2 separate regions of the Homo sapiens genome follow, and region 1 is linked to region 2. The links come from fine-mapping of genetic effects on plasma protein levels. A gene starts in region 2. The other region holds a variant in brackets. All regions are shown on one strand. Distances are between the middles of the regions. Region 1 overlaps HGF (hepatocyte growth factor). Region 2 holds the start of HGF (hepatocyte growth factor).

Evidence for each region. PIP is the chance, under the fine-mapping model, that this variant and not a neighbour inherited with it causes the effect. Protein levels are from antibody-based Olink assays in UK Biobank. Linkage for the fine-mapping came from a reference panel and not from the study's own genotypes, which makes the PIPs less certain.
Region 1: its variant is fine-mapped to the plasma level of the HGF protein (UK Biobank, PIP above 0.99). The variant lies in the coding sequence of HGF. If it changes the protein, the assay may bind it differently, which can mimic a change of level.

The regions. Positions count from the first base shown.
Region 1 is chr7:81,728,232-81,731,149 of GRCh38, forward strand. HGF (hepatocyte growth factor) reads right to left here. Exons shown (of 18, transcript NM_000601.6): 8 at 1,374-1,548. Among named protein-coding and RNA genes, the nearest start is that of HGF, 40 kb to the right of the region's middle. The variant C/T (reference allele first, on the strand shown) is at 1,504.
Region 2 is chr7:81,768,359-81,771,276 of GRCh38, forward strand. It overlaps HGF (hepatocyte growth factor), which reads right to left and starts at 1,689. Exons shown (of 18, transcript NM_000601.6): 1 at 1,526-1,689. The coding sequence starts at 1,613.

The sequences.
Region 1 (2,918 bases), 40 kb before region 2:
TATTTAAAACAAATAACAAAATTAAGAAAAGATGGCTTAAATTCTACCAAGATATAACAGGTAACTTCTGATACTTAAGCTTCACTTGTGAAGTCTGTGAATTAAATGTTTATATCCATTCTGTTTTTCTTACAGATGAATTTCACTAGGTATCTTTACGTACACAATTTCTTATTGGGTATTACTAGTCATTAGAAGTTAACAAAAATGTGAATGGCAGTGACACTATCTCCTTTGTCCCTTATAACTAATATTTTCTCTGTTTCTTTGTTTTTTCTACTTTGATATGTATTTCTCAGGTGTGAAACCCATGGGTCACGAATAGAGAGTGAATTGCTGTGATGGAAATGAGGGAAATAAACCCAGCATGACAACTGTCAATTTTGTTATTGTAAACTAATGGGAAAAAATCTTAGATTAATATTTACTATTTAAACAAATAAATTACAGAACTAGCTAAAGCTTGTGCATGCACACACACACATACAACACAAATCTCCCCTCTCCTATGGCGGATGGGCCAACTAGTGCTCATAGCTCTTCATTCAGAAATGTTAGGCTGTCTTATTAAAAGCCAATTACATAAAGCCAATATATGTTATTTATAGGTGCTATTTCAGAAAAGCCACTATGAATGATGTGTGTTATTAATTTCAAAAGCAATCACTTTATGTTCCTCATAACAAGGTGGACAATTTAAAAACACATGGCATTGTGTCTGTGCCTGTCTGCAAAAGTCAAATGGTGTGAAAAGTACCCATAGAGAATGCACAAAACAACTATGTAATTGATACTCAAGGGCAGTTTCTTTGGCTTGAGTCATCTACACAATTGATTTGCTTCCCCACTTTTCAAAGCAAATCCAGAAACAACTGAACACATTCATTTAAGCTTTGAAAAATTATTTTATTCACAGATCTTTAAGGCTAATAACTCTTCAGTGGTAGGCCTTTTCTTTCCATTCTTTCGAAAGGAAAAATGTGTAATCCTCCCAAAGCTAATACGAAAATTTAAGAAGGCAGTATTTTGAAACATGCCTGGCTGCCATGACTATTAACTGATTTACTAAACAGACCCAGAAGAGCAAAACTGTGATCAGAAATCCACCTAGGGATGTGTTTCCCAAAGCATAGTGAATCTACCCTCTGGATCTGAACCACCTAGGGTCCTTAATGAAATGCATATTTGAGGACCAAATCCCAGATTAAGAGAATCAAAATCTCTGAGTGGAGGTGTAATCTGCCTTTTAACTCCTGATTATCACTGGGCACGCTGAAGTTTGATCACTAACACAAAATTAGTAAAAAGTAACCACTCTACCTCATTTTCCCCAGGGCCTACTGAAATGTATAACATTTGCCTACTTTACTCACTTGCACTTGAAATTTTCAGGAGTCATGTCATGCTCGTGAGGATACTGAGAATCCCAACGCTGACATGGAATTCCATTCCAAATGGTATTGACAGTGCCCCTGTAGCCTTCTCCTTGACCTTGGATGCATT[C/T]AGTTGTTTCCAAAGGAACATCAGTGTCATTCATAGTATTGTCAGCTATTGGCAAAAAACAACAACAAAAAAAAACTTATATAAAATCTTTGAAGATGTCATTTGCCTCTTAGAGTTCATTGGCATTTGTATTAGCAGATTTTTTTTTCTGTTACTTATAAGCTTTTATAATAATTGAGTGGAATAAGAAATTTAACTTAACATTATTACTAACTTCATTCCAATTTTCCTTTCATTCAAATCCTAAATTAGTTTTTTCTTGAAAAGTTACTTAAATGCATTTTACCTCCACATGTATAACTTATATATGCTGAATATATAGTGTTTCTGAAATGACTATACAATTATTTCTAAAATCAGCTTGCTTATAAGTACATACAAAGTGGTAATGAAATTAACCATAATTTTCCTCCAATATAATACATATATTCTGGCCAGGTATGGTGGCTTATGCCTGTAATCCCAGCACTTTGGGAAGCTGAGGTGGGTGGATCACCTGAGGTCAGGAGTTTAAGACCAGCCTGGCCAACATGGTGAAACCCCATCTCTACTAAAAATACAAAAAAAATTAGCCAGGAGTGGTGGTGGCAGGTGCCTGTAATCCCAGCTACTTGGGAGGCTGAGCCAGGAAAACGGCTTGAACTCAGGAAGTGGAGGTTGCAGTGAGCCAAGATCGTGCCATTGCACTCCAGCCTGGGCAAGAAGAGTGAAAGTCTGTCTCAAAAAATAAATTAAATAAATAAATAAATTCTAAGCTAACATGTTAAATATATTTTTAGTCATCTTGTTGACAATAAAGAAAAAATCAGTTATTCCTAGGAAGATCTATCTCCTGCTTTTTTTCCTAGTCCAACTTCAATGCTTACTATACGTCATGAAGATTTGAAACCCTCAGTCACTAAGTAATAAAAGTATAAAATTAAATTTTTACCACAATTTGGTCTCTCTCTCTCTCTGTAATGTTTAGTCAATCAAAATGTAACTCAAAACATTCCAGAGCAACTAAAATTCATATATCTTCTTAAAACATACATGAAAATGTTTATGGTTTGATAAAAGTGTAAACTTCCCAGCTACCTTTACAATCTAAATGGCCATTCAAGATGCCTCTGGATGAAACTCAAGTTGGCAGCCTCTAGGACAGTTTAAGATTTGAGTAAATTTCATTGATTTATCCATTTTGGAATTGGATGTACCACTGTACGAAGGACAGGCCAGAATTAGACATGCTTTCAGTGACTAGGGATGCCTATGAAAGTTTTCTATAGTTAATAGTGTAAATATTTTTAATAGCTTTTAAATTTCATCTAAACACCTCTCTCATACAAACCATTTCTACCTTATGTAGTTAGTTGAATGCTTTATTTCATTGCATTCTATGAGCTAACCTAGGCAAACTAAACAATAGCTTATGT
Region 2 (2,918 bases):
CAGCAGTCATCTGTGAAGCATTTTTTTCTTCTTCTTCTTGAGATGGAGTCTTGCTCCGTTCCCCAGGCTGAAGTGCGGTGACACAATCTCGGCTCACTGCAACCCCCACCTCCCAGGTTCAAGAGAGTCTCCTGCCTCAGCCTCCCAAGTAGGTGGGACTACAGGTGCCTGCCACCACGCCTGGCTAATTTTTTGTATTTTTAGTAGAGACAGGGTTTCACCTTGTTAGCTAGGATGGTCTCAATCTCCTGACCTCGTGATCTGCCCGCCTCGGCCTCCCAAAGTGCTGGGATTACAGGCGTGAGCCACCGCACCCGACCCTGTGAAGCGATTTTAACATGACACATGTCAAGCATGATAACCTGCTTGATTTGAACTCACTGCTTTTTCACTTCTTCAGAAATCTTACCTAAATGCTTTCAGAGTGACCCTTTCCAAACAGTGTCATTTTCCAAACGGGCCACTTCACAAAATAAAAGAAAACCAGGTGGGTTGAATGATTTTCCTTTGCATTTAGAAAATTCTTGAGTTTTTTAACCCTTGTACCATATCAAAAACTAGATCAAAGGTCTGATAAATGTCATATTTACCATCTCAAAAGATACAGCCAGTTCTCTTTTTTATATTGTAAAAAGGCCATGTCTCCATCTGGGCATTTGTTCCCACTCTTTTATTCCCCTGCGCCTACCCTTGATATTCACTGCCTTCTCCCGTTGGCACCTCAGCCTCTACAATGATACAACAAAATACAGATGTTTCCTCTTGCCCTGATAACAAGAGAAACTTCCCAGAGCAGCAAACGAGATCTCTAAATCTCCAAGCAATATGAACTTTCAAGCAACTCCTCCCCAAACGGCAAATCCAAGGGAGAAAGTGGGAGACAGAGATGGGCAGTTCTGCAGCTTTAATCAAAGTCTCCGTGCACTGCAGTTTCAAAGGGCAGGCATCCGTACCCAGAAAGAATAAGATCTTTAAAAAGAGGCTTTCTCTTTCATTTTTATGATATGCAAATACTCAGAGTTTATTCTGCCTCCTCAAAATGAAAACCTGTACAAAGTCGTAATTTGGCTCCAAATGTTGACTAGGTGATGTGGAGTAGTGCATTATCATGAAAAATTGTTCTCTGGAAAAGGATGACTTCCTGCCGGACTGACCATCACTCTTGCCTCTTCAGACCAGACCCTCTCTTTAGCTTTAAACTTGTCCAAAGCAGCCAAGTTCAGCCAGTATTAGCACTTCCTCCCTATCTCATAATCCACAACTATTAGGCTAAGTGGGACGGGGCTTGGGTTGGAGGTGGAGGGGAGTTGAGGGAAAGTTAATTATCATTTTAAATGCTATTCAAACAACAACAAAAAAGAATGTCAAAAAAAGCATAATGAGAGCTTTTAGAAACCTATACTACATACTGAGTTCAGAAAGGATGCTGGGAATAGGGTAAAAAGAGGGTGTTAAAAGGAATAGGGAAGGTTAGCAGGAGAGTTAAATACTAATACTAATAATGAAGAAGAAGAAGGGAACTAACCTGCATAGGGGATGGCGATGGGGAGCAGGAGGAGATGCAGGAGGACATGCTGCAGCAGCAGGGCTGGCAGGAGTTTGGTCACCCACATGGTGCTGCTGGACGGGCTGGCGGATCCCTCTGGAGGAGATGCCTGGGTGAAAGAATCCTGTTCGGAGTCAGTGCCTAAAAGAGCCAGTCGGCTCTGAGCTGCTTTTTATTGCGATGAGCTAAGTTTGTTGTGTGATTAACTGGAAAGATCTAGGTCTGAACTCCCTCTTACGGTAAGAAACTGTTTAACAACAGCCCTTTACTCTCTTCCAGCCCCCTCCTTTCCTCACTCGCCCCCCCTTCAACAGCACCAAACAGATCCCTGCAACCCCCCCCATTCCCCGCCTCCCCCCAACCCCACGCTTAGGAAAGAAACTTACAAAGAAAAGGTCACCTGGCCTGAGGCCAGCTTCAATTTGGAAGCTGGAGCTCCAGATCCCAGTGGCTCCTATCCGAGTAAGGAAGGGAGGAGCAAGGCTGAGCCCAATGGCTAAATCAAGGCACAGGCAGGGGACCAATTCGCTCAATTTAAACAGGAAAATACATGTGTTTATATATCTATTTGGGAAAAGAGGAAGGGGAAGCAGCATAAGAAGAAAGCGAAGAGCTGTCTTTCAGCCAAATGTGCCCCAGCTCCTAATCTGTCTAGTTTTCCTGCTAGAGCAACTGAGGGATTCAAAACACTGACACAGGTTCTCTAGGGGTTTAGAGACCTGGGAGAGGTGGGAGCGGGGCCAGGGAGGAGAGCCCAGGCACGTCCAGCCCAGGTAGAAAGAGGTTAGTTAAGAAAAGGGTGTGGTATTGTGGGGCCAAAATAAGCAAGCAAAACAAAAGCACGCAGATTGTCAGATGAAAAAATTGCCCCTGCCCCATGGGCTCAGAGCAGGCAGCTTTTTTTTTTTTTTTTTTTTTTTTTTTTTTTCACAAACTGCCAAACTCACGAAATACCACACATTTACCCAAAGTATACAAAATAAACTTGTCTGATCTGACTTTTTAAGAGAAAGTCCAAGAAACAGTCATTGTCCATAGCCTGTCCCTGACAGGTAAATATGCCATGTGGACTTGTACAGGCACACACGTGCACACAACACATTCACACATGTTGGTGTGTATGTACGTATACACTGGTTAGGACTGACTTTCACCGGAAATCCCTCAAGCTGTTTGAATTCGTGAGTACTGAATATGCCTCTCTTTTCCAGCTTCATCTGCCTGTACACGACAGCCAGCTTCCCAAAGTGTAAGTGGAAAGATGAGGAGCTTGTATGGGCATGGGGGGACTCCTAGGTATCAAATCCTTGTGAGATCATTGCCCAGACCCCTCACTTGATTCAGAGAATTTGTCTTTGCACCCAGAGGTGGA